4 linked regions of the Homo sapiens genome follow. The protein of the gene in region 4 purifies or fractionates together with the protein of the main gene of each other region. This does not show direct contact. Each region holds a gene or a part of one and is shown on either strand. Other genes may lie near its edges.

Region 1 (6,344 bases), on a different chromosome or scaffold from region 4:
TTCTCCTTGCCTTGTGAGTGGTCAACACTGCCCAGTGCAAGTGAGGCTGGAAGGCTTTGGGGACCTCCAAGTTTTCAGTAACCCTGTGTTACCCCAAGGGAATTGTTTTGCCCACAGATTTTAGCAGGTTGGAGCTTTCAATCTGTCCTGTTTTGGGGGTTTGTGGCTTAGATGCTGGGATGAGAGAAGCCACCTAAATCCAAAGGAAGGAGTTTGCAGCGTGTTGCATCAGCCAGCCAGCAGACACCCAGCTGTCATTTGCATTCTCAGCAACAAAAGCCTTGGCCCCTCATGACTATGGGTGTCACCTGCCCTGTGTGGCCCAGGGCCAGGTGGAAGCCATCCATGACTGAGTAAAATCAGAGTAGCATCCTGCTCTGCTCTCCTGTTTGCAAGGTTAGGAGTTGGCTGAAAACCAGCTGAAGAGTGGCAAGTGTGAATGCTGTTTGTTGAAGGCTGATGGGATGGTTTTCAGCCATTGGAGTTCTGGTGTGGGCACAGCAGGGACAGTTGCTGGCAAGATGGGTGTGTGTCCTGCCCTGACAGTCACGTGCCTGACAGGCTCTAGACCTAGCAGGGCCACTCAAGGATTTACTGTCCCCTTGGCCATGGGAGATGGGAGAGGGACAGTCTTCCTGTGCAGCTGAGCACTGCAGTGTAGGGGAGAAAGAACTCTATTTCTCCCCTTTTAGGGCCCCAGGCTGGGCGGGAGAATTAAACTGACATAAGCTAAACTAACAGGGTCAGGTGCAGTGGTTCATGCCTGTAATCCCAGCAACTTGGGAGGCTGAGGTGTAGGAGGATTGCTTGAGGCTAGGAGTTCGAGACCAGCCTGGGTAACATAGTGAGACCACCATCTGTACAAAAATTAATAAATTAGCCAGGTATGGTGTTGCATCTGTGGTCCCAGCTACTTGGGAGGCTGAGGTGGGAGGATCACTTAAGCCCAAGAGGTTGAGGCTGCAGTGAACTGTGATGGCACCACTGCACTCCAACATGGGTGACAGAGTGAGGCCCTATCTCAAAAAAAAAAAAAAAAAAAAAATAAAGGGAGATGGGTTAATGGGAGAAAAAACATAGGATTTTTTTTTTTTGAGATGGAGTCTTGCTCTGTTGCCCAGGCTGGAGTGCAGTGGTGCGATCTTGCCTCACTGCATCCTCCACCTCCTTGGTTCAAGTGGTTCTCCTGCCTCAGCCTCCCGAGTAACTGCGACTACAGGTGTGCACCACCACGCCTGGCTAATCTTGTATTTTTAGTGGAGATGGGGTTTCACCATGTTGGCCAGGCTGGTCTTGAACTCCTGACCTCAAGTGATCCAACCACCTCGGCCTCCCAAAGTGCTGGGATTACAGGTGTGAGCCACCGTGTCCAGCCAGGCATATTAATTTAACACAAGTTTTATACAGCACAGGCTCCCTTATAATGAAATGAAGACTCAAAGTGGCAAAATTAAATCACTTATATACTGACTTGGACAAAGACTAGCCACTTGTAAAAAAGCAACTACATGATGTGGGGATGCTTGAAAGAGTTGTTTTCACAAGGTCTGTACCAAATTCTGTCGGCCTTGACTTCCTGTCGTCCTTGATGATAAAATCATTTTATTTGATATGGGGAGGGCGTCTTTCACTTGGGAATTTCATTTGCTTTTAAGAAGCAGAATGGAGGTCAGGGTGATCTTGCACTGTTTTTTGATTTTTTTTAAAAAAGGCCTTGCTCTGTTGGCCCAGGCTGGAGTGCAGTGGTATGGTCATAGCTCACTGCAGCCTCAAACTCCTGGGCTCAAGCGATCGTCTTACCTCAGCCTCCCGAGTTGCTGGGACCATAGGTGTGCACCACTATGCCTGGCTAATGTTTTTGATTTTTAGTAGAGACAGGTTTTCACTGTTGCCCAGGCTAGTCTCGAACTCCTGGGCTCAAGCAATCCTCCCACCTCAGCCTCCCAAAGTACTGTGATTACAGGCATGAGGCACCGTGCCAGGCCTCTTCTGTTATTGTTTTTTTTTTTGTTTTTTGTTTTTTTTTGGCTCACCGCAACCTCTGCCTCCCAGGTTCAAGCGATTCTCCTGCTTCAGCCTCCCAAGTAGCTGGGACTACAGGCGTGCGCCACCACGCCCAGCTAATTTTTATATTTGTAGTAGAGATGGGGTTTCAGCAGGTTGGCCAGGATGGTCTTAATCTCCGGACCTCATGTTCTGTCTGCCTCAGCCTCCCAAAGTGCTGGGATTATAGGCGTGAGCCCCCGTGCCTGGCTTTTTTTTTTTTTTTTTTTTTTTTTGAGATGGAGTCTCGCTCTGTCGCCCAGGCTGGAGTGCAGTAGCATGAACTCGGGCTCACTGCAACCTCCGCCTCCTGGATTCAAGTGATTCACCTGCCTCAGCCTCCCGATTAGCTGGGATTACAGGCGTGCCACCACGCCTGGCTCATTTTTGTATTTTTAGTAGAGACGGGGTTTCACCATGTTGGTCAGGCTGGTCTTGAACTCCTGACCTCATGATCCGCCCGCCTTGGCCTCCTGGAGTGCTGGGATTACAAGCGTGAGCCACTGTGCCTGGCCTAATAGTCGATGTGCCTGAGCAGCATGTTTTGGAGTGGCATGTTCTTAACTCCTTCAAGAGCAAACAGGTTCCCCTTCCCCTGGGGAGGGTGGGTGAGGACACAGGTCTTTTCCTGCCACCCGTTTGCAGGGACACGTGATGGACCGTAGGAAGAAGGCACTGACCGACTACAAGAAGCTGCGGGCCTTCTTTGTGGAGGAGGAGGAGCATTTCCTGCAGGAGGCTGAGAAGGAGGAGGGGCTCCCTGAGGACGAGCTGGCTGACCCCACTGAGCGGTTCAGGTCACTGCTGCAGGCGGTCTCGGAGCTGGAGAAGAAGCATCGCAACCTGGGCCTCAGCATGCTGCTGCAGGTGCGGGAGCCCCGCTGGGTCTGCCCACCATCGGGCCAGGGTGGACGCAGGCAGCAGCGAGCCATTGGGGGACCATTGCCCGAAGTCAAGGCTTAAAAGCCCAGCCTGACTCCCACTGCCGTGGCCTTGCAGGGCTGAATTTCGGGAATGGGTGGGTGGTCAGGGAAGGTGATGGGAAGGGGTTTTAAGTTGAGGAGGGTCTGAGGTGTCCCTGACCTTCACAAAGGAGGGCACTTGGCATCCCGAGTGCCCGAGCATGGAAGGCTCCTGCCTCGCCCTGGGGTCCTGAAGGCAGAAGCAGCCAAGAAACCCAACCTCAGGGCTTTTCTTCTGCCTCTGCCCAGGGCCTGGCCTGAACCCCAGACCCTGCAGCAACCCAGATGGCCCTGAACGGTTCAGTTGCCCGTGCCAGCCATAGGTGACAAGGCTTTGGCCCTGGGGAGACGGAAGTCTGGGCCAGGCCCTGGGTTTGTTGTGCTCAGGACAGTACCTCATGCGCTGTCTCATGTGCGCTCTCTCTTTCGCTCTCTCCTTTTGCCTCTGTCTCTGACTCTGTGTGTCTCTTTCTCTTTTTGTCTCTCTGTCTTTCCCTCTCCCCTCCCATGCAGTGATGGCGCCAACCCGTGGCAGTCCCAGAGCTGGAGGCAGGAGGATGGATCCTCATCTCCATGGGAAGTGTCAGCGTGTGGCTGCCAGGGAAGCGTGGCAGGCGCCTGGCCTTGGGTCCATCTACATAGTTGCGTGTTTCAACAATGTCCATTTATCCTTCACCCCGAGGCGTGTTTTGGGGGCTGCAAACACCTCCCGGTAGAGGCTGGACCTGAGGACCCTTCCCACCTGTGCCCGTCCCTTCCTGAAGTCCTAGCCACAGCCCATCCTCCATGAGTCCCGGCAGCTCTGGGTCATGCCCTTCCCTGGTCACCCATCTGCCCCTCACCTCGTCATCCAGGGACCCAGACCCTGCACCTTCCATGTGGGCCCACAGATCCTTGGCAGGTACCTGAGGTGCACCATTGAGTGTCGGATTTGGGGTTAGCATCCAGAAAGAAGAATGCGCATGACGCTCTGTGAAGGCTGGAACTCAGGTCTTCAGGGAGAGAAAGGAAGACTGGATTGCACCTTGATGCCTCCTGAGGAGGCGGCCCCCCTCTTGAGGTGGGCGTGGGCCCGGCCCAGCCTTATCCAAGTCGCTCTGTCCACCTCCCCCTTCCTGGCCCCCACCCCACTCCTGTGCCTCCCAGGAGCCCTCCCTGTGCTCCACCTGCCTCCGCAGAAGGAAGCCTCTTTCTCTGTTTCCCTGGGTGAGGGGGCTGGCAGGTGGCTAACCCCATTTAGCATCTCCAGGCCCTGCCATCGTGTCTCATCTTGCTGTTATCTCTAGCTCTTTCCCTCCTCCCATTTCCTTTAGTAGTTGAATTTTGCAAAGCTTGTAGCAGTAGCTCAGTTGCCTGCAGCATCCTTGTGTGTAGATAAATTAGTCGACAGAAACTCAGCACTGGGGACAGGATTGCAAAGTCGGGGACATAGATGCAGACAGTTGTTGAGATTTGGGGATAGCCGGGCTTGTGAGCGGTGCCCATTTCCAGATGAAGCCTTTCAGCCCTTCTGAGTCCCCGGCCCTTGGTGCGATGTCTGTGAGTTTGACCTGCCCAGCGTGTGGGCTGGCTCAATGCTGAATAAAGTGGGTTTGTGTCAGCTCGTTTGCTTCGTCTCCGTGTGTCCACCTGGCCTCTTCCCCCTGCCCTGGCCACCCTCCAGTGTCAAAGGAAACTTCCTCGTGACACGTGCTAAAGCATGGTGAGGAGGACTTTGATTGGGACCATTGAGATGGGTGTGGGACCCTTTCCTTGGGGCCTGGGGGGAGATGGGGCTCCACCCCGACGTAGCAGGGCAGGGGTTGGAGGAGCGAGGAGCAGTATAGGGTCCATGGGTGGGAATGACTGTGAGGAGACATCAGGGCTGAGGGGGCTCTGGCTAAACCCACCTCACAGAGTCCTTGCTGCAGGCAGGCAGGGCGATCAGACATTGGCTGCAAACGGTCAGAGAGGAACCCAGTCAGGTACCATTGAGGGTGGTCAGATATTATGGTTAACCAAATTAGGGTTCTTGCTAAAACTGGATTTCATAAGAAAGGGCAAAGAGGGCCCTAGGAGAAGATTCCAGAGCCTGGCCAGAGTTTGGCCAAGTAGAGAATCTTTGTCAGCACGCCAACAACATCCCGACCCTGAGACCTCCAGTTTGTCTTTCTCACTGTCTCCGCCTGCTGCAGTCTGCTGTCATCCCTGAGCATCCCTGCCCCTGCCCTGCACACCTGTGATGCTTGCCCGGACAGGTCCTGATGGCAGAGTCTCCCACAACATCAGTGTCTCCACATCACCAGGTCCGACAGTGGCTTCACCATCCTCACCTAACCTAGCTGACCAGCAACATCCCACCCTGTCAATCACAACCTCTTTCTATTTAAGAAAATTATATATTTATGGGGCACAGTGTGATGTTTTGATATCTATGTACATTGTGGAGTGACAGATTAATGTATCCATCTCATGTTTTTTTTGGTGGTGAGAATATTTGAAATCTACACTCAGCAATTTCAAATACAGTCATCCCTCTGTGCCTAAGGGGGATTGGTTCCAGGACCCCCTCATGGATACCAAAATCTGCAGATACTCAAGTACCCTGCAGTCAGCCCTCCCTCTGCACATATGTGGGACAGTCAGATACAGAGGGCCAACTGCGTACAGTACACGGTTATCAGCTGAAGTCACCATGCTGTGCAATAGACCTTGAGTTTATTCTTGTATAGCAGGGACTCTGTACCCTCTGACTAGAATTTCCCCAAATCCTCTTGTCTCAGCCCCTGCTAACCACCGTTCTACTCTCTAATTCTATAAATCAACATTTTGATTCCACATATAAGTGAGATCATGTGATATTTGTCCTGTTCCTGGCTTATTTCACTTAATATAAATGTCCTGTAAATTCACCCATGTTGCAAATGGCAGGGTTTCCTTTTTTATGGCCAAATAGTATTCCATGATGTGTATACACCACATTTTCTTAAGCCATTTATCCACTTTATCCCTTTATCACTTTGCTTCTAGACCACGTAGGTTGATTCCGTATCTTGACTGTTGTAAAAGTGCTCTTAAGAAACACAGGAGTGTGGGTATCTCTTCCATATATTCATGTCGTTTCCTTTGGGAAAATACTTAGCAGTAGGATTGCTGGGTCACGGTACTCTTTTTAAGTTTTTGAATAACCTCCATATGCTTCTCCATAATGGCTATAATAATTTACATACTCACCAACATTTATTTTCTTTGAAATTAGTCATTCTAAGAAGTGTGAGATAATCTCATTGTGATTTGGTTTACGTTTCCCTGATGATTAATGATGTTGAGCATTTTTTTATATACCTGTTGGCCATTGGT
Region 2 (7,122 bases), on a different chromosome or scaffold from region 4:
GAGAAGCCCTCATGCCCAAGTGGTGGGAAGGGGTGGAGGAGAATGGGGAGGAAATGGGAGTGAGGCCACCCCAGGTAAGGTCAGCTGCAACCTCTGGGCTAGGGTGACGCCAGAAGAGAAGATAGGGCCTGCAGTGCCTCTCCCCCATCCACAGCCCTGGGTGCACATGCCACGAGCTCCTGCTCACTCCACCTCACATCCCCACACTTGTGCATGAACAACACACACACATGGAGAATAGTCACAGGCTCACCTTTCACATGCATGCACACAGAAATTGTGCATGAACACACGCATGCACACGGGCCCCTTGTGTTAGTGTAGACATTTTTGAGAATTCTAAACAGGCAGAATATAGGGGCCAAAGGACTTTAGACCAACTCTCACGTATGACAGAGGCACTAAGGCCTAGAAAAAGGAAGCCTCATAATTTGGTGACCTAGGCAGATCACTCTATGTCCCCCCATGCATGTGCATGTTGTGTGTGTGTGCGCGCGCACACACACACACACACACATGCACGCACGCAGTCCCACCAGCTGTCCAAAGCTCCTTCCATAACCCTATCTTCTCAACAGCCTCTCTCTCCCAGGACACCCACAGGCTTAACCAAGTCCCACCAGGAGTGCCCCGAGTTTCCTCCCAGCTATTCCAGCAGGCTGCTGGGGGGAATACAGTGTCGGGACCAAGATAGACTCTGCCCCTCTTGGTGGGATGGCTACAGCCCACAACCACAGCTGACCACAGCAGCCCCCGACTGCCTCTCTCCTCTCAGAGCCTGTTTCCGGGTTCAGACCTTCTTCCTCCATCTCTCTTTCTGGGTCTTTCTCCCTTGCTTCCTTTCTCTACCTCCAGAAAGGAGGCTGTGATTCTCTGTTTTTCCCTCTCTTTCCTGGTGTCTCTCTCATTTCTCTGTTTCTCTCCAGTTTTCTGTCTCTGCTGGGCTTGTCCCTCTCGCTCCATCTTCTCATCAGGATCTTTTTTTTTGCCTTCCAGGAAAAGCTGACGTGGTGCCCCTGGTCAGTGGGAGTGAGGCCTTCTGGGGTGGGGGAGTCCTGGTTGAGCAGCCACAGCTGGGGTGCGGCTGGCGCCCTGGCTAGGGGCAGCAGGAGCAGGAGCAGAGCGAGAGGCAGCGGAATGGGAGGAGAGAGGGCTGGACCTCTGCAGGCAGGAAGGGGAGCAGGGGGAAAGAAAAACTGTGGGAGGGAGTGAGCCCCCCTCCCCTGCTAGGGTGACCAACTGTACTGGTTTGCTGAGACTGTCTCGATTTTAGCATGGAAAGTCCCATGTCCCAGAAAACCCATCAGTTCCAGGTGAACCAGGACTGTTGGCTGGTCACCCTACAAGCTGCCAGGGACCCACAGGAGACAGGGCCAGGACTCACAGGAGGGGCTCCCAAGCTTGGCCTCCTAGTTCTGGGGACAGTCAGGGCCGCACATACTCACCAAGGGTCCCCATCTCAGGCCTGAGCCCAATTTAGAGGAGGCCAGGAGAGGGGAGATGGCAGCCCAGACAGCCCACAGGAAGCTCCCAGCCTGAAAAGATCAGGGAGCCCGACTTCTGACTTGTCTCCCTGCCTGCTGGCATGATCTCCTGTGAGGTGGGCTTTACAGAAAGAACTTGAGCTCTGACAGCAAGAGAAGAGCAGAGGGGCAACCCAGGAGGTCATACGCCCCATCCTCAGAGGCCTGCACAACTGCTCCTGGGCTCTGCTGAGGAGCAGGCCCACCTGTCCCACTGTGAGACACCTTGGAGAGTCAATAGTCCTTGGCTGAGATCCTGGCGGCCTTATTGTCCTTCCTGGTGGAAGCGGGTATGGCCACACCTTGCAGGCAGTGGCAGGACCTGAGCAGACCAGGAAGATACATCAGTGACCAGCACGCACAGTCTCATTTCTGCCCAGGTGGGCTGGTCCCTCCCACTTTTCCCGCCCTCAGCCCCCCACATCTGTTTTGAGGTGGGAGTCTGAGCTTAGTGTTTGGCTGTCATTAAGGTCTTAGGTAGGGAATGAGGGGACAGACTCCCTGCCCCCAGAAGGCTGCTGACATACTCACCCACCCAACAGAGCATGGGTCTCCTACACTGTATGAAATATTCTCTAAAATGTCTTGGGCATGCCCCTTCCCTAGCCTGGGCCCAAAGGCCCTATCTGTAAGTTGATGAGGAGATGAAGTGGGTGAGCTCTAAAATGCTTCCTTCTGATGACCACCCAACTTGTCCATCATGCCATGAAGGGGGCGCTTACAGAGTGTCTTCCCTGTGCTGGAGATCAATAGCACCTGGGAAGTTAAGGCCTCTGCCCTCAGTGGGCTTCCTCTCTAGTAAGGGGTCGCACATTAAGCACGCATGAATAAATAATCACAGCTTATAGGAGGAGCTATGAAGAAAAGTCAGGAATGTCTGAGAGAACAGTCACTGGGAACTGAGGGCTGAGGAGGTGCTTGTACTCTGACCCTGATGTGCTTGCAAGGAGGGAGGTGGGGTGGGAACTATGAGCTCCTCAGAGCACCCTGGAGGTAAAGCTGGTGGCACAGACTTTGTGCAGGTGAGGGTGTGTGTATGGGCTGTGCAGAACATAGTGAAGCCCCCTCCACCAGGAAGCCCTCCCTGACTGACACTGAGGTCACTGAGTCTCCCCTCTGGTTTACTGAACCCTGGATGTGTTTCTTGCAGCCTCTGGTTGGCCCACCAAATTCAGGACTTTCCTAGAAATTCTCCAGCACAGTCAGGATGATGCAAGAGAGGGCTTCCTCTGCAGGGGAAAGAGAGGGTGCTCTCCATTGGACCATAATAATATCCTCAGCATCAGACTCGGGTGTTTTGCAGGCAGCATGCTGGGGACTTCTGTGGCCTTGCTTGGTGACAGGGAATGGGGTGTGATGAGCTGGGGCAGGCTTCCTGGGGATGCTTTCAGCCAAAGATGAGCCCTGTCTGCCCTTGGCCCTGCTGAGAGGGTAAGTTGAGTCATGAGCAGAATTCAACCAGTTATCAGATGGAAGGCCAAGGAAGCTTGGGGAGGGCTACTGAGGGGATACGGTAGGCTTGTCTGTGGAGAGCAAAATTCTTCAGTCTACAAAGTTCTTTTCTGGGCTCCTTCATCTTTCGGTTTCTCTTCCAGCTCCCTCGTTTTGGGCCTCTTTTGTTTCCCCATTCCCCTCCCCTGGGCCTTCCCGTTTGGAAAAGGGGTCACATATCCTCACCCTGGAGGCGTCTGCCCCTTCCACACAGTTGGTGTTGGAACAGTGGAGCTCAGAGAGGCCGATGCTGACCGCGTAGATGTCCAGCACCAACAGTGGGATTTTGGGCCCTGTGGGGGACACAGAGAGAACTCTCCGGGAGTGCGGCCCCTTGGCCTCCCCTCTGGGTGCCCAGTGGGCAGTGGGCCTGGGTGGCTCAGAATCCCAGCCAGGAGCACTGAAGGTCAACAGGCTCCCGCCCTGAGTTTTCTGAGCCAGGCCTCCCTGTTTCCTCCCCAGCCAGTGGGGAGCGCAGTGAGGGGCGGGGCCTGGAGTCTTGGGAGCTCCCTGGACAACAACATGCATTTAGCGCAGCTCAGTCTCAGAGCCAGCAGGATATGTTTTCTTAAAAAAAAAAAAAATGCCTAACATCTTGGCTTTCACCGAAGGGTTGGTATCTGCTTTGTACACTTTGGCCTTCTTGGCTTTTCACTGAAACACACACACATGGATGCACACTCACTTCCACACACAAACCCACACCAAGACAGACACACACACACACTCACACACAAACTCATGTACATGGTTTCATACCCACATCCATGCAAACACACATACAAATCCAGAAATACGCACCCTCACACCCACAAACTTGTACACACACACACACGTATACACACCAACACACATACAACCCTGGCTTGGACAAAAGCTTCCCGTTTTTTCTTGTTTGAAGTGGAAATCTCCCACCTTCCATGAGATTCAATTTCTCGCCCTTCCCCCGCTAAAATCCTCCTGGCCCCATCATTTCTTGGGTCCTTTCCAGACAGTGCTGTGTCTTTAAGGAAGTTGAAGCTGCTAAAAGTGAGTGAGAGAGAGAGAAAAAACACAACCCAAAAAAATTTGGCATCTCTTCCCCCCTCAAGTTTCTGGTGTCACTTATGAAACACAGGTCCTTGTTGCTGCAGAGAAGCAGTTGTTTTGCTGGAAGGAGGGAGTGCGCGGGCTGCCCCGGGCTCCTCCCTGCCGCCTCCTCTCAGTGGATGGTTCCAGGCACCCTGTCTGGGGCAGGGAGGGCACAGGCCTGCACATCGAAGGTGGGGTGGGACCAGGCTGCCCCTCGCCCCAGCATCCAAGTCCTCCCTTGGGCGCCCGTGGCCCTGCAGACTCTCAGGGCTAAGGTCCTCTGTTGCTTTTTGGTTCCACCTTAGAAGAGGCTCCGCTTGACTAAGAGTAGCTTGAAGGTAAGCCAGTGGGGAGGAGGGCTCCAGGGCCAGCGGCGGGAGCGGGAGGCCTGTTGGACATAGGGGCTGGTTCCCTCTTGGTCCATCCCTGCTGGTCTGAGGTGCGTGGGACAATCCCTAGCTTGGAGCCGTCCAGGGGGCATCTGCTTCTTCCACAACCCACAACTGAGGCCCCAGAAATCCCAGCTGCGTTTGGGCTGAGCCTCTGGCCTCACCCAAGTCAGCTGAGAGGTCCTGGCGGGGGTTTATTTAGGCAGCTGCCTGGCTAAGTTTGAACAGAACAGGCCACGGGTGTGATTCCACAGAAAAGGCCTGGTGTCTGCTGCGGTCATGGCCGGAGGAGCGGGAGAGGGCGGGTGGAGTGGATGGGGGTGGTGTGCACTGCACAAGGGGCCTCGTCTGGGCCAAGGCAAAGCATACCTATGGGGGGCTCCGGTGGGAGGGACTGCGGCCAGGATGTGGGAGGGCAGGGGGAGGTTCTGCAAAGTGCTGGGGGAGGGGGGTGGCTGGAAAACAGATTTCAAGTCATAAAGTCAGCTAGGAACAGGCCGAGGCAGGGAGAACTCTCCACTCGGAGGAGGAGCTGGGGTCCTCTTCCATCCCGTCTTCATCCTGCCTGGCTGCGTGACCTCGGGCAAGTCTCCGCCCTTCTCTTGGCCTCAGTTTCTCCTTCCGTAGGATGGGGGCGGTGGGCTAGGTGGTGTTGGGATTTAGCTGGGTTATGTGGGACAGGGCCTCCTGATGGGAAAGAGCTCTGGCTGGGCTTGTGGGAGGAATGAGTCCCTTTGGCAGGTTCTCGGGATCCCCTGGGTGACATGCCTTTCTCTGCAGGAGGCACCATGCAGGAGCTGCATCTGCTCTGGTGGGCGCTTCTCCTGGGCCTGGCTCAGGCCTGCCCTGAGCCCTGCGACTGTGGGGAAAAGTATGGCTTCCAGATCGCCGACTGTGCCTACCGCGACCTAGAATCCGTGCCGCCTGGCTTCCCGGCCAATGTGACTACACTGAGCCTGTCAGCCAACCGGCTGCCAGGCTTGCCGGAGGGTGCCTTCAGGGAGGTGCCCCTGCTGCAGTCGCTGTGGCTGGCACACAATGAGATCCGCACGGTGGCCGCCGGAGCCCTGGCCTCTCTGAGCCATCTCAAGAGCCTGGACCTCAGCCACAATCTCATCTCTGACTTTGCCTGGAGCGACCTGCACAACCTCAGTGCCCTCCAATTGCTCAAGATGGACAGCAACGAGCTGACCTTCATCCCCCGCGACGCCTTCCGCAGCCTCCGTGCTCTGCGCTCGCTGCAACTCAACCACAACCGCTTGCACACATTGGCCGAGGGCACCTTCACCCCGCTCACCGCGCTGTCCCACCTGCAGATCAACGAGAACCCCTTCGACTGCACCTGCGGCATCGTGTGGCTCAAGACATGGGCCCTGACCACGGCCGTGTCCATCCCGGAGCAGGACAACATCGCCTGCACCTCACCCCATGTGCTCAAGGGTACGCCGCTGAGCCGCCTGCCGCCACTGCCATGCTCGGCGCCCTCAGTGCAGCTCAGCTACCAACCCAGCCAGGATGGTGCCGAGCTGCGGCCTGGTTTTGTGCTGGCACTGCACTGTGATGTGGACGGGCAGCCGGCCCCTCAGCTTCACTGGCACATCCAGATACCCAGTGGCATTGTGGAGATCACCAGCCCCAACGTGGGCACTGATGGGCGTGCCCTGCCTGGCACCCCTGTGGCCAGCTCCCAGCCGCGCTTCCAGGCCTTTGCCAATGGCAGCCTGCTTATCCCCGACTTTGGCAAGCTGGAGGAAGGCACCTACAGCTGCCTGGCCACCAATGAGCTGGGCAGTGCTGAGAGCTCAGTGGACGTGGCACTGGCCACGCCCGGTGAGGGTGGTGAGGACACACTGGGGCGCAGGTTCCATGGCAAAGCGGTTGAGGGAAAGGGCTGCTATACGGTTGACAACGAGGTGCAGCCATCAGGGCCGGAGGACAATGTGGTCATCATCTACCTCAGCCGTGCTGGGAACCCTGAGGCTGCAGTCGCAGAAGGGGTCCCTGGGCAGCTGCCCCCAGGCCTGCTCCTGCTGGGCCAAAGCCTCCTCCTCTTCTTCTTCCTCACCTCCTTCTAGCCCCACCCAGGGCTTCCCTAACTCCTCCCCTTGCCCCTACCAATGCCCCTTTAAGTGCTGCAGGGGTCTGGGGTTGGCAACTCCTGAGGCCTGCATGGGTGACTTCACATTTTCCTACCTCTCCTTCTAATCTCTTCTAGAGCACCTGCTATCCCCAACTTCTAGACCTGCTCCAAACTAGTGACTAGGATAGAATTTGATCCCCTAACTCACTGTCTGCGGTGCTCATTGCTGCTAACAGCATTGCCTGTGCTCTCCTCTCAGGGGCAGCATGCTAACGGGGCGACGTCCTAATCCAACTGGGAGAAGCCTCAGTGGTGGAATTCCAGGCACTGTGACTGTCAAGCTGGCAAGGGCCAGGATTGGGGGAATGGAGCTGGGGCTTAGCTGGGAGGTGGTCTGAAGCAGACAGGGAATGGGAGAGGAGGATGGGAAGTAGACAGTGGCTGGTATGGCTCTGAGGCTCCCTGGGGCCTGCTCAAGCTCCTCCTGCTCCTTGCTGTTTTCTGATGATTTGGGGGCTTGGGAGTCCCTTTGTCCTCATCTGAGACTGAAATGTGGGGATCCAGGATG
Region 3 (7,983 bases), on a different chromosome or scaffold from region 4:
CAGTGGTGTGATCTAGGCTCACTGCAACCTCTGCCTCCCAGGTTCAAGCAATTCTTGTGCCTCAGCCTCCTGAGCAGCAGGGATTACAGGCACGCTCCACCATGCCTGGCTAATTTTTGTATTTTTAGTAGAGACGGGGTTTCACTATGTTGGCCAGGCTGGTCTTGTGATCTCAGGTGATTTGCCCACCTTTGCATCCCAAAGTGCTGGGATTACAGGCTTCAGCCACCGCGCATAAAAATCTTACCATTCATCTTATCTCATTCCCATCAGGGATCTAAACCCTGCCCTTCATTACTTTGAAACCTCTCATATCTCTTTCTTCTCCATTTCTACCGCTATCATTAAGCTCAATTACAGGAGTTGCCTAAATGTTTTCTTTCCCTTCAATCCCTACCCTCAATCAGTGTGTACTAGTCACTACTGCTAAACTGACTTTTAAAACTTTCTTTCACCATTTTCCATTCACTCTGTAAGTTCTTCAATGGATATCTAATACTTACAATGTAAAATCTAAACTTCTCAGTTTTCAAGATTCTCCAAAATTCACAGTATCATTTAAAACAATCTTTTATTAAAGCAAAGTGCTCCATTCCTACAAGGATTAATTCTCAACATTCCTAGAACAAACTTAGTTTTCTTATTTCCCGAAGCCATCAAGGCTGATCATGTAATTCCTAAAGCAATCTCAGTTTTTAAGCAGAATTTATGTATGGAAAAAAGTCCCAATAAAGAGAAAATGAGTGTTATCATTAGAAAGAAATAAAAACAGAAAAATATCTTCTGATCACTAAAGGAAATTAAAGATTTCACATGACCAATACTGATAAATAACTAAAACATTCCACTGAAATCCAGTTTACAAACTGCTTTCACTTTCAGAGATGAAAAAAGTGTGGATCACAGATTTCAAATGACTTGTCTAATGTCCCACATTTAACAAAAATGAAGAAGCAGAAGCTTCTATGGACTCGAAATCCCATGTCTACACCTTGGCTTTCCTGAACTATCTAACTACAGAGGAAACAGACAAATATATTCATTGGAAAAGCATTAAAATACCTGGATGTCAAATATCTATTCAAAGAGTGAACACAGGGATTAAAATCCTGGTGCTTAAAATCCTTCAGTTGTTCCCTATAGCATTTAAATTCAAAACTACTTAGACAAAGCCTTTGTAAATCTGACTCCTAATCCAATCTACCAAATCATTCTGCCAATTTCCAATTACACCAAAGTATTTAAAAATGTTATTCTAATGATAACTTGCAGAGGATCTGCCATCATTATTACATTTAAGTAGAAGGGTGGCAAACAAAAAGATACCAAGGATAAACATGTGTGTTACCAATCTTTCAGGCTACATTAAGTTAAAAGCTGTTTACGAAACAGAGTTTTGCATAAAAAAAGATATTACTGAAATAAATATTAAAATATAACTTCCAACATTCCTTTCACCTTTCCTAAGAAACTAACTAATTAGTTTATGCTCAGGAATCATACTGCCAGGACTTGAGTTCAGGCTCTACCAAGTTCCTAATAACCTCTCTGAATCTCATTTCACATTAACCTCTATGTCAGTAATATCTACCTTGTAGGATTATTGTGCAAATTAAATGACAGAAGGTGAAGCACTTATCACTATTCCTATAATACAACAAGAGCTCAAATATATTCCTCTAATAGTTAACTGTTCAATGAACATAGATTCGAGTGGAAATCTTAATTTTTGGCTTATCCTCAAATACTTTTGTCTCTGACAATCTGCTGATGAGGTTAAAAATGTTCATTCACCATGAAGAATACCAATTACTCATTTGCATTCTGAGGACATCCAGGAAGTCAGGTGGATGCAAGAACTTGATGTGATCTGATCTTCCCTTGTGTACAGAGGTTGTCTTTAGGCACCTTGCTCAATGTCTAGCTCACAGTAGATGATCAATATTTTGAGGGAATACTGGAATGAATGAAAATGTCTGCCCAAATAGCCTCAAAGTTTATCATAGGACTGAATCACTGACATCGCTCTTCCAATAGCAACCGTTCTGACCTATGGATGCCCTAAATTCTAATTTCAACTTCCACCATGGGGCCATATTCGAAGAACTCATATAAAAGTGAGGCGACAATGGATGGATGCTCAGTTGAGGGTACATGGTGCTTATGGCAGTCCCAAAGCTGTATTTAAAAGGGCACACCGCAGGACAATGCATCAATATATATGACATCAAGAATAAAAATGAGAATCCCTTCTGCCTTTCATCTTTTAAAAACTGTCCTTGATGTTACATCAATTTTAACATTGTAACTCACCTGTTTTTTCAGTTATATCTGAATCAGGAGTGTTTGCCCTGCTAACTTCCCCTTCAGCATTCTCCTCTTCAGCACTAAGAGAAATTGGTGAAGAAGGGCCAGGCTGGGAAGGTTGAGGGGTTGCTTCGGGCGCTTCCTCAATCTTATTCCTTTTCTCAAAGCGAAAACGGTCCAGGTTGAAAAGATTCATATTGGTAGAAAGCACCACCTTGCAGGGATGGGGGCTTTAAATGAACTATCTGCAGGGGAAAAATAAAGAGAGGAAAAAAGGCCATGAAAACAATATACGATACAATGCCACAGCAGTTTATTCCCAAGGCAATAAAGGGCCCGCAAACATGCCAGTGGCTCAGGACTGTTATGGCTGCGCTTCATTGTTAGGCCGCAACAATTAGAAGGTGGACGGGGGTATCTTTTAAAATTTTCCATTGCTTTTCACTCCCCTTCGTCCGCCTCCCCCGCCCGCCCCTCCTTACTGAAACCACGAGCTGACCCTCATGCAACCTCCTCTTACCCAAGCACGCGCAGGCACGTTCCCCAGTATAACCCCCTAGCGGGCCTCGCGCCCGCCCACAAAGAGAAGCTCCCTGTGCTACCGTGCCCCCTGCCTCGAGAAAGGACCTGCCAGGGCCCGCGCCTCGACACTGCGGGGACACAAAGGGGCCAAAGAAGGGGAGCGGCGGAGGCCGTGCTGGCGGGCATCCGCCCGGAAGTTGACGCGGCGCGATCCCAGCTGAGAGGAAGCTGATAGGATTAAGAACACACAGGAAGGTTCAGAGGTGGAGTGCATGCTAAGGCATCTTTTTAACGTTCAATCGCTCGCTTGTTCTTTCTTCCCTCAGTACTTACGATCTTGTAGCCTCAGTGCTATGTAACAAAGGTTGAAAATAAAAAAAAAATTTCCTAGCGTGGGGCGACGGTAGCCGTGCCGGGACCTTCCAAAACACCACGGAGAAACCTTAAGAGCGCGTAATGATGACGCAACACGCAGCCTAGGCTTTTTCTTCCCAAACAACGCGCGAGCCGACAATGTCGAGGCGCGCGCTGTTGTCATGGTAATTCGTACCCGTCTCCGCCGGCTTGTAAGGGCCAGATTGTTCTGTACCTTTGTCCTGTTAAATTATCTAGAGAGTTATTAAATAGAACAATAGTAAATAGCATAATGACAAAAAATAACAATATATAATACAATTAGTATATATTGTATGTATTATAATCTGTAGTGTTTCACCTATAATATAATGTAGATAGCATAATAGTAATAATACTGTGCTAAGCTTTTTCAGTGTATAATCCCAATCCTTACAAGAAGCCTATGTTTACAAAGCAAAGAAACTGAGACCTGCAAATGTATAGGTAATTAGTGACGGATAAGAACCCCGGGATGCTGAGCTTCAAAGCATTTAAAGTAATTCCTCACTTTCGGCTTGATTGTTCTTAGAATGGAATTTGATTAATTAATTAATTTTTTAAAAATATTTTAATTTTTAATGTTTGCGGGTACATAGTAGGTGTACATATTTATAGGGTACATGAGATATTTTGATACAGGCATGCAATGTGTAATAATCATATCAGGGTAAGTGGGGTATCCATAACAAGCATTTATCCTTTGTGTTTCAAACAATCCAGTTATTTTAGTCATTTAAAAATGTACAATAAGCTGGGAGTGGTGGCTCACGCCTGTAATCCCAGCACTTTGGGGGGCTGAGGCAGGTGAATCACAAGGTCAGGAGTTTGAGACCAGCCTAGCCAACATGGTGAAACTCCGTCTCTGCTAAATATACAAAAAATTAGCCGGGCGTAGTGGCGGGCGCCTGTAATCTCAGCTAATCGGGAGGCTGAGGCAGGAGAATAGCTTGAACCTGGGATGCGGAGGTTGCAGTTAGCCGAGATCACTCCACTGCACTCCACCCTGGGCAACAAAGCAAGACTCTTGTCTCAAAAAAAAAAGTACAATAAATTGTTGTTGACTGTAGTCATGCTATTGTGCTATCAAATACTAGATCTTATTCATTCAAACTGTATTTTCGTACCCATTAACCATGCTCACCGACCACCGGGGTCCTCCCCCGCCCCACACTACCCTTCCCAGCCTCTGGTAGCCATCGTTCTACCGTTTCTCATACGTTCAATTGTTTTAATTTTTTAGCTCCCACAAATATAATAAATGAGAACATACCAAGTTTTTTTTCTGTGCCTGCCTTATTTCCTTTAATATAATGACCTCCAGTTCCATCCATGTTGCAAATGACAGGATCTCATTTTTTTTAATGGCGAAATAATACTCCACTGTGTATATGCACCACATTTTTCTTATTCATTCACCTGTTAATGGACACTTAAGTTGCTTCCAAATCTTGGCTGTTGTGAATAGTGCTGCAACAAACATGAGAATGCAGATATCATTTCGATACACTGATTTCCTTTCTTTTGCATATAATTCACCTATCTTGATGGAAATGTTAGCTTAAGAATATATACTCCTGGCCGGGCGCAGTGGCTCACGCCTGTAATCCCAGCACTTTGGGAGGTGGAGGCGGGCGGATCATGAGGTCAGGAGATCGAGACCATCCTGGCCAACACGGTGAAACCCCGTCTCAACTAAAAATACAAAAAATTAGCCGGGCGTGGTGGCGGGCGCCTGTAGTCCTACCTACTCGGGAGGCTGAGGCAGGAGAATGGCATGAACCAGGGAGGCGGAGCTTGCAGTGAGCCGAGATCACGCCATTGCACTCCAGCCTGGGCAACTCCATCTCAAAAAAACAAAGAATATATACTCCTGGGCTAGGAGCAGTGGCTCACGTCTGTTATCCCAGCACTTTGGGAGGCCAAGGCAGAGCTGGGGCAACATAGTGAGACCCCATCTCTAAAAAAAATACAAAGTTATCCAGGCATGATGGCACACGTCTGTAGTCCCAGCTACTTTGGGGGCTGAGGCAGGAGGATCACTTGAGCCTGGGAGGTCGAGGCTGCAGTGAGCCATGTTTGCACCACTGCACTCTGGCCTGGGTGACAGAGCAAGACCCTGTCTCAAAAAAACAAAAAACTAAGATATACTCCCTTTGTTCCAACATTAGACAAGCAATTTTCTGAGTTATAATTTGAGCTTCTGGTTGGCATTTCCCATAAAGAGGAATTGCTACAAATGATCATTCTGCCAGATATATTAGCCATTGTAAACTTAAATTGCCAGTTTGTTTTATAAGTCAGTGTTGTGAATTGTATATTTACAACACATACCCACAGTTTTATCAAATGTGGGCACATTTATAAAATCAGGTGTCTGGGCCAATAAAACTCAAGATCAAAGCCTGAACAATTAGGACTTCCTTTATACCTATCTTTAATATCCCATGAAATGCATTAGTTTTATGCATGCATATTAAATTATGTGATCAAAGAATATATTTACTTATGGCCAGGCACAGCGGCTCATGCCTGTAATTCTAGCACTTTGGGAGACTGAGGTGGGAGGATCACTTGTGGCCAAGAGTTCAAGACCAGCCTGGGCAACAAAGGGAGACTTCATCTCTCTTTTTTTTTTTTTTGAGACAGGGTCTCACTCTGTCACCCAGGCTGGAGTTCAGTGGTTCAATTGTGGCTCACTGTAGCCTTGACTTCCCAGGCTCAAGCGATCCTCCCATCTCAGCCTCCCAAGTAGCTGGAACTACAGGTACTTGTCTCCATGCCTGACTAATTTTTGCATTTTTTGTAGAGATGGGGTTTTGCCATGTTGGCCTGGTGGTGGGGGTGGGGGGAGGCGGGTTGGGGGCATCAAGGCTGCAGTGAGCCATGATTGAAAGAAAAAGAAAAGAAAAAAATATATATTTACTTGTAAGTAGTAAATTATTTTTGGTGATGAAGACAATTTGATTTCTATTTAGAGAGATCTGACATTGAAAATGGACTCCTCTAGCTGAATGACCTTTCTAAGTCTTACTTTCATCATTCTTTAAATGTGATTAACAATAATATTGACGCTTAGAGTGCTTTTCTGCAACAGTACCACCTCTTGACGTTATAGCTGGGACAAGATTGAAAATGAACCACATAAATTAAAAATGTCTAAATATTTAAACATTATAAATATAGCCAACAAAGTGTAAAAGTTAAATATGTTCTTCCTATTTTGAAAATACCAGGGAAGCCAGGTTGAATTTAGAATTTCTATTGTGTCAGAATGTGGGTTAATGAAAGAGAATTGATTGGCTCATATATCCTGCCTTGCTAGTGTCACCTTTTCATACACAATTTGATACTAATGGTATCAATAACGATATCATAATGGGCCATGTGCTTATGCACATAGATGCCCAGCATATGGACACCCAACTCTGGCCCCCAACTAGGGTTACCATATTTGTTTTTTTTAAAAAAGGGATGTACAGTTAAATTTGAATTTTAAATAAACAATGAATACATTCTTAGTATAAATTTGTCTGATGAAATACTTGGAACTGATACTAAGACATTATTTGTTGTTTATCTGAAACTCAAATTTAACAAGTTGTCTTGTATTTTATTTGGCAAACTTACTGCTCTCCCACTCCTTTGTCACCTCTTGGACCTTGGGGCCTTTTGGCTACATTTTTGGCCTAGGGTTATAGATACTGAAAGCACTGTTTGCCCTCAGTAGGAAGGACCTCGGGAAAAGTCACTGTTAGACTTCTTGGGGCTGTGTGAGCAAAGAATTTTAGGGACCAGGTACTCAAATTATTGTCTAAAAGTGAAGGCACAAGTTCTGAATGAACACGTCTTCTTGGCCCCAAAGATTCCTTTAGGGCAGGGCATAGCTGGAAAGAACTAGATTTTGCCCTTTAAAGCACTAGACCAGGATAGGGACTCCTTTTGACCAGTTCTAAGGGTAGGATTTTTCTGCAACCTTCATTGACCTGGGAGAATTATAATGATTCATGATTGGGGTTCTCTTTGAAAGTGAAGTAGAAGTTTAAGGGTATGTATTAGTTTGCTAGGGCTGGTATATTAACAGCCTGGATGACTGAAACAACAGAAATTTATTTTCTCTTGGTCCCTGAGGCTAGATTTCCACTCTCAAGGTTTTGGTAGAGTTAGTATATTCTGAAAGCCATGAAGGAAAGATCTGTTGCAGACAATAGATGAAATCAATGAATTAGCCAGGCGTGGTGGCACACGCCTGTAGCCCTGGCTACTCAGGAGGCTGAGGCAGGAGAATTGCCTGAACCCAGGAGGCAAAGGTTGCAGTGAGCCATATCATGCCACTGCTTTAAAGGGTGACAGAGCAAGACTCCATCTCAAAAAAAAAAAAAAAAAAAACAATGAAATATGAAGAAATGATAAATATAAGATTCAGAGAAGTGAGAATGAAGCTTTGAATAATAGGTGTAAACAATCATACATACTCACACACACATACCAAAAAAAAAAGAAATAATGAAAAACATAATAGAAAACGTTCATGGGCTTTCATTTAGTCTGCATGTGAAAGAGCTTAGTGAATTCAGGCAGAATCAATTGAAAGAGACTATACAGTAAAAATATCCTGCAGAATTTGTTTTAATTTCAAGAATTTAAAAAATGTCTTGCAAGCATTTTTCAGAAAAAATCTACAGCCTACAAAGGGAAAGAAATCAAGCAAAAGCTTTTTTGTTAAACGTCAGAAAGTAATGATGCAATATTTATAATGAT
Region 4 (2,831 bases):
ATGGAGGTGGGCAGCTACCAGTCTTCCAGTAGGCATCCCTGACTGAGTCCTGGGCTTTAATGTGGGTGAGCAGCCAAAGCAGGCATCCCTGCAATTGACCTGCCATCAAGGGAATGTGGGTGAATGATCAAGGAAGGCATCTCCGCAGTGATCAAACGCCAAGGGAAGACTGTCTTCCCAAGTCCATGACCAACATCGGAGTCTTTGGATGCACGGATAAAATGTGTCTGCTTTTTGTCTCTACTAGGAAGGGAGAGAAACTGAAACTGAAAGAAGAGAGATTGAAGGGAGGTGAGAGAGGTTAGGTAGAGAGCAAAAAAACCGCTTATCCAAGTGCAAAAAAACCGCTTACCGATTTGAAATTAGTGAGACGATCCTTGGGCTGGCTGGTCTGATGACCCGAGGTCATAGGTGGATCTCCTCATGGAGGGAGTGTAATGACAGGGGATGGGTCTCCTGAGGAGTTCTAATGTCCCAGGTTTCAGCACAAAATGTTACATGCGTCTGAGTAAAGAGAGCACCTAGCAGGCTTTGTGCGAGCAACAATGGCTGTGTATTACATCCGGATGTGGATGGGCTGTCCAACAAAACAGTCAGCAAAGGGTGGTGGGATTATCATTAGTTCTCATAGGTTTGGGATAAGCGGTGGAGTTAGGAGCAATTTTTTTTGTAGGCAGTGGGGTGGACGTTACAAAGTACATTCTCAAGGGCGGGGAGGATGTTACAAAGTACATTCACAAGGGCGGGGAGGGTGTATCATCACAAGGGTGGGGAGGAAGGTTACAAAGTACATTTACAAGGAGAGGAAAGGTGTACTGTCACAAGGGCCAATGGCAGGGTACATTCACTAGGTGGGGGAGGATGTATCTTATAAAGTACATTCACAAGGGCAGGGGAATATCACAAAGTACATTATCACAAGGGCGGGGGGATGTCACAATGGCTTGACCATGGTATGGCCAGCTCAGAGTACCTTACAGTTCTGATGTTTAAAATTACATTCTTTTTTTTCTTTAAAAAAAAAAAAAAAAACAGGGTTTCACTCTGTCACACAGGCTGAAGTATAGTGGCATTATCATGGCTCACTGCAGCCTTTACTTCCTGGGCTCAAGCAGTCCTTTGCCTGAGTACCAGGGACTACATACGTGCACCACCACATCCAGCTAATTTTTAAAAATATATTTTGTAGAGAAGAGATCTCTCTATGTTGCCTAGGCTGCCCTCAAACTCCTGAGCTCAAGCGATCATCCTTCCTTGGCCTCCCACATTGTTGGCATTACAACTGTGAGCCACTCTGCTTGGCCCTTTATTCTTTTACATATTTAATTTTTTAAAAAATCAACAAAGATAGAGGGAAAACCCAAAATGGAATACGAACAGGAACAATCAATCTGAACTTTGTATCAAATGGGTAATAAGACTATGTAACAGGAACAACACAACAACAGTTGCTGCCTAGACATTAGAAATAGAGGCCAGGCACAGTGGCTCAACCCTGTCATCCTAGCATTTTGGGAGGCTGATGCAGAAGGATAACTTGAACAGGATTTCAAGACCAGCCTGGGCAATATAGTGAGACACAGTCTCGACCAAAAAAAAAAAAATTTAAAAATAAAAAAATTAGCCGGGCCTGGTGGTACATGCCTGCATTCCCAGCTACTCAGAAGGCTGAGGTGAGAGGATTGCTTGAGCCCAGGAGGTCGAGGCTGCAGTGAGCTATGATTGCACCACTGCACTCCAGCCTAGGTGACATGGCAAGACACTGTCTCTGGAAAAAAAAAAAAAAAAAAAGAACACCACCGGCCACTGTGGCTCATTCCTGTAATCCCAGCACTTTGGGAGGTTGAATCAGGCTGAATCAGGGGGGTCTCAGGAGTTCAAGACCATCCTGGCCAACATGGCAAAACCCCGCCTCTACTGAAAATACAAAAATTAGCTGGGTGTGGTGGTGCACACCTGTAATCCCAGGTACTTGGGAGGCTGAGGCAGGAGAATCACTTGAACCCAGGAATTGGAGGTTGCAGTGAGCTGAGATCACGCCACTGCACTCCAGCCTGGGTGACAGAGCGAGACTCTGTCATTCATAAATAAATAAGTTTAGAAAAAAAAAATGTGTCTGAAAGGGTCTTGAGCATCCCTCTGGGCAAATTCCAGGCATCATCCATAATGATGAATGCACAAATACAAAGATACGAATGAGCCAGAGCCAACCTTATATTCCTGCAGTAAATGCCACTGGGTTTACTATTTTCTTATCAAGCAGTTGGAATTTATTTGCTAATCCGTTCCTTCCTAGCTTCCTTTTTTCCTTCTTTTTTTTTTTTTTTTAAATGGAGTCTTGCTCTGTTGCCCAGGCTGGAATGCAGTGGCATGATCTTGGCTCACTGCATTTTTTAATTTTTAAGTTTTTTGTAGATGGGGGGCTTGCTATGCTGTCCAGGCAGGTCTCGAACTCCTGAGCTCAAGTAATCCTTTTGCCTCCTTTCAAAGTGTTGAGACTCCAGGCATAAGCCACTTTGCCCAGTTGCTACTATTATACTTAGCGCATTTTTTTGTTTGTTTGTTTTTTGAGACAGTCTTACTCTGTATCCCAGGCTGGAGTGCAGTGGTGTGATCTCGGTTCACTGTAACCTCCTGCCTCAGCCTCCCGAGTAGCTAGGAATACATGCACATGCCACCACGCCCAGCTATATTTTTTTAGTTTTAGTAGATACAAGGTTTCACCGTTTTAGCCAGGATCATCTCAATCTGACCTTGTGATCCACCTGCCTCAGCCTCCCAAAGTGCTGGGATTACAGGCATGTGAGCCACCGTACCTGGCTTACTTAGTG

The links.
Region 1: the proteins of ZNF562 (region 4) and RNF187 purify together in Homo sapiens (affinity purification with mass spectrometry; 3 studies listed by BioGRID and IntAct, with this or other methods). This does not show direct contact.
Region 2: the proteins of ZNF562 (region 4) and ISLR purify together in Homo sapiens (affinity purification with mass spectrometry; 3 studies listed by BioGRID and IntAct, with this or other methods). This does not show direct contact.
Region 3: the proteins of ZNF562 (region 4) and SMARCAD1 purify together in Homo sapiens (affinity purification with mass spectrometry; 3 studies listed by BioGRID and IntAct, with this or other methods). This does not show direct contact.

What each region holds. Positions count from the first base shown.
Region 1 is NC_000001.11:228,490,365-228,496,708, forward strand, and holds the end of RNF187 (E3 ubiquitin-protein ligase RNF187), read left to right. Parts: intron 1-2,688; coding exon 2,689-2,910; intron 2,911-3,518; coding exon 3,519-3,521; 3' UTR 3,522-5,824; downstream 5,825-6,344.
Region 2 is NC_000015.10:74,169,597-74,176,718, forward strand, and holds the start of ISLR (immunoglobulin superfamily containing leucine-rich repeat protein precursor), read left to right. Parts: upstream 1-4,113; 5' UTR 4,114-4,423; intron 4,424-4,950; exon of another isoform or gene 4,951-5,057; intron 5,058-5,254; 5' UTR 5,255-5,262; coding exon 5,263-6,549; 3' UTR 6,550-7,122.
Region 3 is NC_000004.12:94,202,915-94,210,897, reverse strand, and holds the start of SMARCAD1 (SWI/SNF-related matrix-associated actin-dependent regulator of chromatin subfamily A containing DEAD/H box 1), read right to left. Parts: upstream 3,034-7,983; 5' UTR 2,828-3,033; intron 2,815-2,827; exon of another isoform or gene 2,656-2,814; intron 2,553-2,655; 5' UTR 2,504-2,552; coding exon 2,314-2,503; intron 1-2,313. UniProt on the Homo sapiens protein: DNA helicase that possesses intrinsic ATP-dependent nucleosome-remodeling activity and is both required for DNA repair and heterochromatin organization.
Region 4 is NC_000019.10:9,641,273-9,644,103, forward strand, and holds the end of ZNF562 (zinc finger protein 562), read right to left. Parts: 3' UTR 535-2,831; downstream 1-534. UniProt on the Homo sapiens protein: May be involved in transcriptional regulation.